Linked DNA regions of Homo sapiens. The protein of the gene in region 1 interacts with the protein of each later gene in a biochemical or structural test. Each region holds a gene or a part of one and is shown on either strand. Other genes may lie near its edges.

Region 1 (3,654 bases):
ATGCTGAGCACTGTCTACTTGGATTAGAATAAATGGAAAGAAAATAGCTGTAGCATCCTCTTATCCACACGAGTATTTGAGTTGGTGTATATATTTCTACTCGTTTGTCTGCTTATCTTGGAACTGAGTTACTCCAGAGCAAGAGTCACATATTAATTACCTTTGAATCCCCAGACCCAAGCCCAGTGTCTGGCACACAATAAGAATCATTAAGTGTTCTACAGGCACATGCTGGGTGAATTTTAGTAAAAAAGAGAATGGAAAATGCTCCTTAAAATCCGAAGGGATATGAAGAAGAAAGGGCATTAGAAAGGTCCGGGAAACAGCAAGGACTAAATAGATCAGTAGTAGAGAAAATTAGCATAGGTTATGATTACTGAACTATATGTATATGGTTTTATATATATATAGTCCATTTATATACACATAGTCTCTCTCTGTCTGTCTGTCTGTCTGTCTGTCTCTCTCTCTCTCTCTCTCTCTCTCTCTCTCTCTCTATATATATATATATATATATATATATATATATATATTCCTTTCAGTTGTGTTCTGGGCAAGAACACAACCCAAAACATGGTAAGCAGCTTGGCTTATCCTCTGTTTGATTGTTCTGCAGAAATGATTACGAAATGGGTCATGCCCTCCAATAGCTCAAAGCCTAATCGCCAAGATAGAATCTGCTGCTTTCTCTCATTGAACCCAGCCTGATAGTTTAGGCCTTAGGTCCATGTGCAGTTGTTTAATTTTGCAGGTGAGTGGCATGCCCAAGGTTACTCCAGAACTGAGATAGCGTGTCTGAGAGAAGACTGAAGCCTTCTCCATGTAGATGGTGGCCACATTTTTCATAGTGAAGTTCAAGATTTGTGCCGGACAAAGCATTTTCATTGCTGGTAGGTGTAACAGACCAGAAGTTATAGTTAAAAATGACAAAATAGAAATTTCAGGGACATTTAATAGTTTATGGAAACAACAGGACTAATATATTACCAAAGGGTCTATGCGGTAGACTGTGGTATCTGTCCTATGTCAAGTTTTGGAGTGTTGCTTTGGTTGTGTGTATTTAGAAGTGGTCTTCCCCAAACAATTCGGAGGAAGGGGGATGTTACTGGGAAAATGGAATTCATTGAATGCCCTGCTGAGTTAATAATAAGTAGATGAATGGCCAAATAAAGCAATATATAGATGGACGGCACCACCAAATATTATTAATAGAGATTTATTTACTTACATAGGATCAAGTCTTCTGTACGAAATACATTAGGAATCCAGACTAAGAATACTGGTTAAAGTTTAGCATTTCTGGGTTGACGTTTTAGCACAAGAAACACTTTACCCTCCATCTGGGAGCAAGGTATGAGGGAGACTTAGGTTCTACACCTAGAAGCTAAGTCTTCTAGACTCCCCATCTCATTCTCTTTTGTGACTGTACCACATGCCTTCTACTAAGATATAATTTGGATGTTTTCAGGTCATGTGCTATAATTCAATATGCTAATAAATTCCAAGGCAATTTGAATGGAATGTTGGTTTATAATGAGGCAACTCAGGAAAGACTACATCATCTTTAGTGGAAAATACTGTCCAAAAAATCCAAATAGTTAAATGATCTTATATTTGGGTTTTGTGCTTCTTTTATGTGTATATTCTTTGCTCTGATTTTAGTTAAGTATGAAAATGTCAGACAGCAAAAACTAGGAGGATTATATTTATATAAAAGAAAGTTTAGGGAATGAGATGAGTCATTTAGCCCATGAATTAATCAGCTGTGCTTTGAGGAAATAGTGCAGGAAGGTAAAATGGAACAAATAGACGAGAGAAGAAAGCGTGACTTCTTTTAGTCAACATATGATGGGGAAAGCGGTAGAGAAAAATTGGCTATTTGGTGAGTGATTCACTTGAGTTCCTTTTCAGTGGTCAATGTTTAAAGTGAAATCCTAATGAGATTGTTGCTGCCCTTTTTGTACGGCTCTGACTAAAAGAGGGAAAACAGTCATAATAATTAATTGAGAGGGGTATGACTTTCTGAGTAGATAAAAACATGATAGACTATTAGATAATGAATATTTATTGCTTGATGCTTCTCAGTCTGGAAGAGACACTTTCTGAATATTTCTCCGCTTTCTAACATTTCAGCTGTCAGAATTGAATGGTTCACATATAAACTACATTGTTTTGGTTTAACTAACAAAGAGTGATAAGACATGAATTGTTTGTGACAGCCCCGAACATTGATAACAGAAGACATTAATGCCTGCAGACACAGCCTACATGGTAAAAATCTGGAAACAAAAATGCTTATTATGTTAGGCCATCGTGCTTTGACCTAGTTTTGCTTTTCTGCTTGGAAATTATGTCAATATTAGTTACATCATCCCTTCGGATGAGCAATTCCACATTCTTGTTTATTTCAGTGTCATATTATTAGTTTTTGTATATTTAGTTCTGACCTCTGAGGAGCCAAACTAATCCTCATTGACTTGCATTTTCCTTTTGAAATGAGACTTCTGCATGATAAAGAGAGAGGATTTTATGTATTAACAAAACAATCTAAGATGCCTCTTTAAAGGCATTCATTTCTCCTTGATCCGGAGCTACTGCCCTCTTGAAGGTTCCTAGAGGCCATCCAGTTTTCTGCTGATCAGAATTAGTCTTTTTTTCTTTGTCTTATGGGGATGGAATAGATTACTGGGCCTAGAACTGCCATAGTTGAATAACAAAAAGTAAAACTGTGAGGCTGATGGGACATTTCCCAGCCCATCATCCTTAAATTTGCCCTTTTCATGTTTCTGCTTTACTTCTTCATCCAGCAGAAACGGGCTTAGCATATTTTTCCCATTTAACATTTTTATTGAATACTTTTCAAAATGAATTATTTCCGCAGTTGATTTCGAACACATTTTTTTCTGTCATTTAATACTTTATATCACTAGAGGAAAGAACCATTTAATTCTTTCATACATTTATGAATTCTAATCTTCAAAGAGTGTGAGTTCTTCAAGTGATCAACTTACATCAAATTTACAAGTATAATTTACTACCAAAAGACCTTGAACGCTTTTTGGTGCACATGTTTTGGCATTCCTTATTAACAAATGTAATGAGGCAAAAGCCCACAAGAATATGTATTCCTGGTTCCTCTTTAAAAATGTACCATTTGCTCTTATTTTCTAATTAAGGCTTTGAAGGTTAAAAATCCCTTTGTTGTTAGCTCCTTTACAAGTCTCCTGCCTGAGTGCAGAAAACATAAGAAGGGAGTGTCCTCTTCAGAGCATAACCAAACCAACTAAATTTTAACCAGGTAAATTGTTGATTAGCATTGGATCATGTAAAGAAACAGTATGAAAGTAATTGAGATAGGCACAACTCCTAATTGTGTGATCCCAGGGGGCTTCAAACATTGTTTGAAACATTCACCTCAGAGATTATATTCCATGTCTGATCCTTATGCTAATTTGAATACTAGGATCCTGAAGAAAAACTTTATAGGATTTCTTGAGTCCCTAATTGGTATGTAAACATCGTCATTCCCAAGCTGCCCAAAGTTGTGAATTATAGTATACCATGTGTCTCCTGTTGTGATATCAATTTCTACAGCAATTTTTCTGCTTGTTGTAGGCAAATGTAAATATATTTCCCTCCTCTTACACAAATAGT
Region 2 (3,754 bases), on another chromosome or scaffold:
GAGGTGGAGGTTGCAGTGAGCCAAGATTGCGCCATTGCACTCTAGCCAGGGCGACAGGGCGAGACTCCGTCTCAAAAAAAAAAAAAAAAGAAAAAGAAAAATGAAAGGTGGGAGGGGCCGGTGCGAGCAGTTGGGGTCCTGCTCTGTGGGGTGCGACCTCAGCCCAGGCAGGGCCTCCCTCCGTGGGGCACAGTCCCGTGGGTTGGGCGGGGGAAAGATACATAGCCAGACAGGAGTGAAGGGGGCTCACTCGGTACAGCGATGGGGGATGCCCAGACGCGGGGCACTCAAGTGGGGAGCTGGAGCCGGCTGAGCAGCGCTGACCTAGGGTGCAGGGCGTGGTCCCTGGAGGCCTGGGAGGCTGACCCTGCCCTTCCCCTCCCCCGCCAGAAGACTCGAGCTCTGGGCTCATGAACACTCTCCTGAATGGACACAAGGTAAGCGACCTTCTTCCTCTCAAAGCACCTGGGGGAGAAAGGTCTGGAGGCTTCTAGAACCCTGAGTCAGAGCCAGTGCTCGCCCAGATGTGTGCAAGCAGGGGCGGTGCCACTGCACCGTGGGATCGCTGTTGATTGTACTCCCACCGGGGTGTCCCAGGAGACCCTCCTAGGCTTGGGGCACACCCAGAGAGCGTGGCTGCCTCCTACCACCAGTAAATTGCCACCTTGTCCCTTCGTCTTAGGGTGGGGACTGCGATGGCTTCTCCACCTTCGATGTTCCCATCTTCACTGAAGAGTTCTTGGACCAAAACAAAGGTGAGCGGTAACTGCGCTCCTGATGCGAACTCCGTGAAACTGGGTGGTAGAGGGGGGCGTGGGCCAGGAGGGCCCCAAGACTGCAGGAGGCGGATCGGGAGGTTCCCTATGAGCGTCCAGGCGCACGCTGTCGCTCCAGAGGCTGATGTGGAGCAGGAGGCAGAGGGCGCAGTGAGGGAAACCTGGGCAGGGGCACGTCCCGGGCAAAAGCCCGGAGGTAGGGGAAAGGGGAGGCGCAGGCTTTGACCCCGCTCCCCCCGGCGCAGCGCGTGAGGCGGAGCTTCGGCGCTTGCGGAAGATGAATGTGGCCTTCGAGGAGCAGAACGCGGTACTGCAGAGGCACACGCAGAGCATGAGCAGCGCGCGCGAGCGTCTGGAGCAGGAGCTGGCGCTGGAGGAGCGGAGGACGCTGGCGCTGCAGCAGCAGCTCCAGGCCGTGCGCCAGGCGCTCACCGCCAGCTTCGCCTCACTGCCGGTGCCGGGTGCGGGCCACGCCCATCTCCCAGTCCCGCCCCGGTCACCCGGCCCCGCCCGCCTCCCCCCCCCTCCTCCCTTCCCCCCTTCCCCTGTCGCCCGGCGCCGCCCATCGCCCCGTCCCCTCTTCCCCAGTCACCCGGCCCCGCCTATCGCCCCGCCCTCATCACCCCCAGCTCCGCCTCCTCCCCGACCCCCGCACCCCTACCCCATAGCTCCGTCTGGTTCTTCCCAGACCACACCCGAGCTCCGCTCCGCGCCCCGTTACTCGGCCGGCTCCCTGACCTCGCCCCCACCGACCGCGCCTCCCGGCCACGACCTCTCCCGACGCGTCCCCGCTTACTCGCTTCCTCCCGCAGCCCCTTTGTGCCCCCACCCTTCGCGCCCCCACCGCTCCCTACCGGCCCCACCGTCGCTGGCCCCTCTCCCTCGCCAGCCCCCGACCAGCCTGAGCACTGACCCAGCCTCCCCGCTCGCCACGCCACGTTCCCATTCACCCCACCTCCCCACGCCCCCGTCACCCATCCCTCCCCACGCCCCGCTGACGCCTGAGCCCCCTCCACCACCCCAGTCACGTCCCACGCGACCCCAGCCCCCCGGTGTCATCCCCACCTCCCCGACCTCGTTCCCTCCGTCCGTGACTGTCCTCAGCGGACCCTGGACGCCCGCCGCTCTAGCCCCGCGTCCCCACCCTGTCCCCGTCCTCGCCATCCTCCTGCCCCGGCTTACCTTAGCCCACCCTGCGCCGCTCCTGCGCTGGCGGTGTCCGGACCTCTGAGCGCCCGCGCGACCCGCCCTGAGTCACCCCCTACCGCTGCCCCTGGAGCCCCCGCCCCGCGACTCCCCGGCACCCTCGCCTGACCTTCCCGCCTGTCCCCCAGGCACGGGCGAAACGCCCACGCTGGGCACTCTGGACTTCTACATGGCCCGGCTTCACGGAGCCATCGAGCGCGACCCCGCCCAGCACGAGAAGCTCATCGTCCGCATCAAGGAAATCCTGGCCCAGGTCGCCAGGTGTGTGCCGGGCGAGGCGGGGCGGGGCCGGGGTTCAAGGCCCGGATGTGCCCGCCCTGGGGTTCCCCAGGTCCGCGAGGGCTGCTGGGTGGGACTCCGCAGCTTACTAGAGATCACCTCCCGGAGGGGCCTACCTGCGGTCGCCCCTGATGCACCAGTGCTAGGATGGCCATGGAGAACCCCGGGCCGGCGGGACCCACTCGGGGGCACCAGAACTTCCCTAAAGCTTCTCAGGGTGGATCCCAGCGCCCGGGTTAGATAGGTTCAACGCCTGTCCCCCAACCCTGGCATCTGTTGGAGCAGCTGATGGGCCATGGTCTCTGGGGTTCCCCAGGGCCGGGGTGGGGGCCAGAGATGATGAGGGCCTCATCCCGGGCCCTCCTCTCTCGTTTCAGCGAGCACCTGTGAGGAGTGGGCGGGCCCACGATGCAGAGGAGAAGCTGTGGGCGCGGCCCTGCCACACCCCACCCCGTGGACGAGAGGCTGGGGGTCCACCCTTTGGGGCCTGGTCCCATCCTGCACCTTGGGGGCTCCAGCCCCCCTAAAATTAAATTTCTGCAGCATCCCTTTAGCTTTCAATCTCCCCAGCCCCCTGAACCCGGAAAAAGCACTCGCTGCGCGATACACCCAGAAGAACCTCACAGCCGAGGGTGCCCCTCCTCGGAGGACAGCCACGCGCTACACTGGCTCTCCGGGCCACCCCCAGGACACAGGGCAGACGAAACCCACCCCCAGCACACGGCAGGACCCCCCAAATTACTCACTACGGGGGGCTGTGCCATAGGCCACACAGGAAGCTGCCTTGTGGGGACTTACCTGGGGTGTCCCCCGCATGCCTGTACCCCAGATGGGTGGGGGCCGGCTTTGCCCATCCTGCTCTCCTCCAGCCGAGGGACCCTGGTGGGGGTGGCTCCTTCTCACTGCTGGATCCGGACTTTTTAAATAAAAACAAGTAAAATTTGTGTTTTAAGCTTGTGAGTGTGTAAGCTTGTTTGGGGTGGTGTGGAGGGTTCAGAAGGTGCAGCCTGGGCCCCCCATGACATTCCCTGCTGGGGGCGCCAGGCCTGCTCTCTTTACCTCTAGCAGAGCCTCAGAGTTTCTCAGATAGGGAGACGGGAGCCCAAACTTGCCGGGGTTCACAGAGCAAGTCAATGGCTGGGCAGGTGTCTCCATCCCTCCCCTACCTAAAGTTGGGCATTGTGGGCTCAGCACACGTGGGGGACTTGAAGCACAGGGGACAGTCACGGCTGCTCAGTTCATCCTTCAACTTGTGTCCGCACGGGGGTTCAAGTCCACTTTGTAGCACAGTGACTTTGGGTGGGCCACGGTTTTGTTTATTGTGTAAAATACGCAACATGAACCTTACCATCATAGCCATTTTGTTTATTTATTGGAGACGCGGTCTCACTCTGCCACCCAGGCTGGAGCGCAGTGGCCCGATCATAGCTCACTGCAGCCTTGAACTCCTGGGCTCAAGCAATCCTCCTGCTTCAGCCTCCCAAACCCTGGGA
Region 3 (2,607 bases), on another chromosome or scaffold:
GGCAGGAGCTGGTTACCTGTGCCGCTTCTGGAGGGAGGCCTCTTCCTGCAGTTGCCTTGCCCACCTCACCCCACTGGGAAAATAGGTGGCTTGCCTCCTGTCCTGGAGAGTCACTAATGCATTCCCCACATTCCACCCACTGGGAAACAGCATAAACCCTGTGACCGGGAGGGTGGAGGAGAAGCCGCCTAACCCTATGGAGGGCATGACAGAGGAGCAGAAGGAGCACGAGGCCATGAAGCTGGTGACCATGTTTGACAAGCTCTCCAGGTGTGTGGCATGAGGAGGAGGGGCCTGCAGCTGGGAGAAGGGAGAGCTGACCCACATCCTGTCTTGTGAGCCCCAGGAGGTAGGATCAGAGGAGAGCTTAGGATCCTGGTATTAGGTTGCATTGCTCACGTTTGAAATCACTTGCCCTGGAGGAAATCCCCCAGGGGATGGGTATATTGAGATCAGTATTGTGCCCCTTTTACAGATGATAACTGAGGCCCAGAGAAATTAAGAGACTGTCTAAGGCCGGGCGTGGTAGCTCACGCCTATAATCCCAGCACTTTGGGAGACTGAGGCAGGTAGATCACAAGGTCAGGAGATCGAGACCATCCTGGCCAACATGGTGAAACCCCATCTCTGCTAAAATACAAAAAAAAAGTTAGCTGGGCGTGGTGGTGGGCGCCTGTAGTCCCAGCTGCTCGGGAGGTTGAGGCAGGGGAATCACTTGAACCCAGGAGGCAGAGCTTGCAGTGAGCTGACATTGTGCCACCGCACTCCAGCCTGGCAACAGAGTGAGACTTCGTCTCAAAAAAAAAAAAGAGACTAATGTCGCCAGATTTATTGGAGATGGCCCAGTGTCCAAATTAAGAGCCTGCTTAAGGCCAATTTAGATGTTTAAAATAGGAAACTGCTTAAAGCCAGGAGGCAGCAGTTAGGGTTTGGGCCCAGTTAACAGAAGGTCCAACCAGGCTTCCCCAGTAAATGGGAGCAGCCTACTTGGTAGAGAGGAAGGTAGCAGCCACGGGTGAGTAGGACCCCTGCCTGGCCAACTGGGCCCCTTCCCCAGCCCCACTGCACCTTTCCCCAACAGGAACAGAGTCATCCAGCCAATGGGGATGAGTCCCCGGGGTCATCTTACGTCCCTGCAGGATGCCATGTGCGAGACTATGGAGCAGCAGCTCTCCTCGGACCCTGACTCGGACCCTGACTGAGGATGGCAGCTCTTCTGCTCCCCCATCAGGACTGGTGCTGCTTCCAGAGACTTCCTTGGGGTTGCAACCTGGGGAAGCCACATCCCACTGGATCCACACCCGCCCCCACTTCTCCATCTTAGAAACCCCTTCTCTTGACTCCCGTTCTGTTCATGATTTGCCTCTGGTCCAGTTTCTCATCTCTGGACTGCAACGGTCTTCTTGTGCTAGAACTCAGGCTCAGCCTCGAATTCCACAGACGAAGTACTTTCTTTTGTCTGCGCCAAGAGGAATGTGTTCAGAAGCTGCTGCCTGAGGGCAGGGCCTACCTGGGCACACAGAAGAGCATATGGGAGGGCAGGGGTTTGGGTGTGGGTGCACACAAAGCAAGCACCATCTGGGATTGGCACACTGGCAGAGCCAGTGTGTTGGGGTATGTGCTGCACTTCCCAGGGAGAAAACCTGTCAGAACTTTCCATACGAGTATATCAGAACACACCCTTCCAAGGTATGTATGCTCTGTTGTTCCTGTCCTGTCTTCACTGAGCGCAGGGCTGGAGGCCTCTTAGACATTCTCCTTGGTCCTCGTTCAGCTGCCCACTGTAGTATCCACAGTGCCCGAGTTCTCGCTGGTTTTGGCAATTAAACCTCCTTCCTACTGGTTTAGACTACACTTACAACAAGGAAAATGCCCCTCGTGTGACCATAGATTGAGATTTATACCACATACCACACATAGCCACAGAAACATCATCTTGAAATAAAGAAGAGTTTTGGACAAAAATGTATGTGTAAATTATCAAATAAAGGGGCCAGGCACAGTGGCTCATGCCTGTAATCCCAGCACTTTGGGAGGCCGAGGTGGGTGGATCACTTGAAGCCAGGAGTTCGAGACCAGCCTGGCCAACATAGCAAAACCTTGTCTCTATTACAAATATGCCCATGTGCTAGGTGTGGTGGGACACACCTGTAATCCCAGCTACCCAGGAGAATCGCTTAAACCCGGGAGGCGGAAGTTGCAGTGAGCTGAGATCATAACACCGCACTCCACCCTGAGTGACAGGGCAAGACTCAAAAAATAAAAAAGGAACATTAACTAGGGTTAGAAACTAACTTCATTCTTTTTAGAATTCAACAGTTTTCCTAGGTCACCAATTCCACCTTTTGTTCTTATTAAGGCGCAAAGTCACAGGACCCCCTTCCTGGGAGTCACTGTCATTAAATCTATTGCCGTCAGCTCAGCCCAGGGTAGGCAAGGTTCAAGAATGGGAAGTGCTTTTGTCTGGGGAAACACGCAGGTAATGTGATGCTAGGAAGGAGGATGTGCAGGTGGGTGAGAGCCCAGGAGGGAGCAGCTGGTGCCTGACAGGGTGAGCCATCAGGGCTGGGCCTGGGTACAGCCCCAGGAGAAGGAGCCTGTGCAGAA

What was found.
Region 2: the proteins of MID1 (region 1) and HMG20B form a complex in vitro, tested with the Homo sapiens proteins (one study listed by BioGRID).
Region 3: the proteins of MID1 (region 1) and RIC8A form a complex in vitro, tested with the Homo sapiens proteins (one study listed by BioGRID).

What each region holds. Positions count from the first base shown.
Region 1 is NC_000023.11:10,610,576-10,614,229, reverse strand, and holds part of MID1 (E3 ubiquitin-protein ligase Midline-1), read left to right. Parts: intron 1-3,654. UniProt on the Homo sapiens protein: Has E3 ubiquitin ligase activity towards IGBP1, promoting its monoubiquitination, which results in deprotection of the catalytic subunit of protein phosphatase PP2A, and its subsequent degradation by polyubiquitination.
Region 2 is NC_000019.10:3,575,871-3,579,624, forward strand, and holds the end of HMG20B (SWI/SNF-related matrix-associated actin-dependent regulator of chromatin subfamily E member 1-related), read left to right. Parts: intron 1-390; coding exon 391-437; intron 438-682; coding exon 683-755; intron 756-1,021; coding exon 1,022-1,237; intron 1,238-2,110; coding exon 2,111-2,243; intron 2,244-2,638; coding exon 2,639-2,651; 3' UTR 2,652-3,213; downstream 3,214-3,754. UniProt on the Homo sapiens protein: Required for correct progression through G2 phase of the cell cycle and entry into mitosis. Required for RCOR1/CoREST mediated repression of neuronal specific gene promoters.
Region 3 is NC_000011.10:213,149-215,755, forward strand, and holds the end of RIC8A (chaperone Ric-8A), read left to right. Parts: intron 1-150; coding exon 151-270; intron 271-1,081; coding exon 1,082-1,202; 3' UTR 1,203-1,965; downstream 1,966-2,607.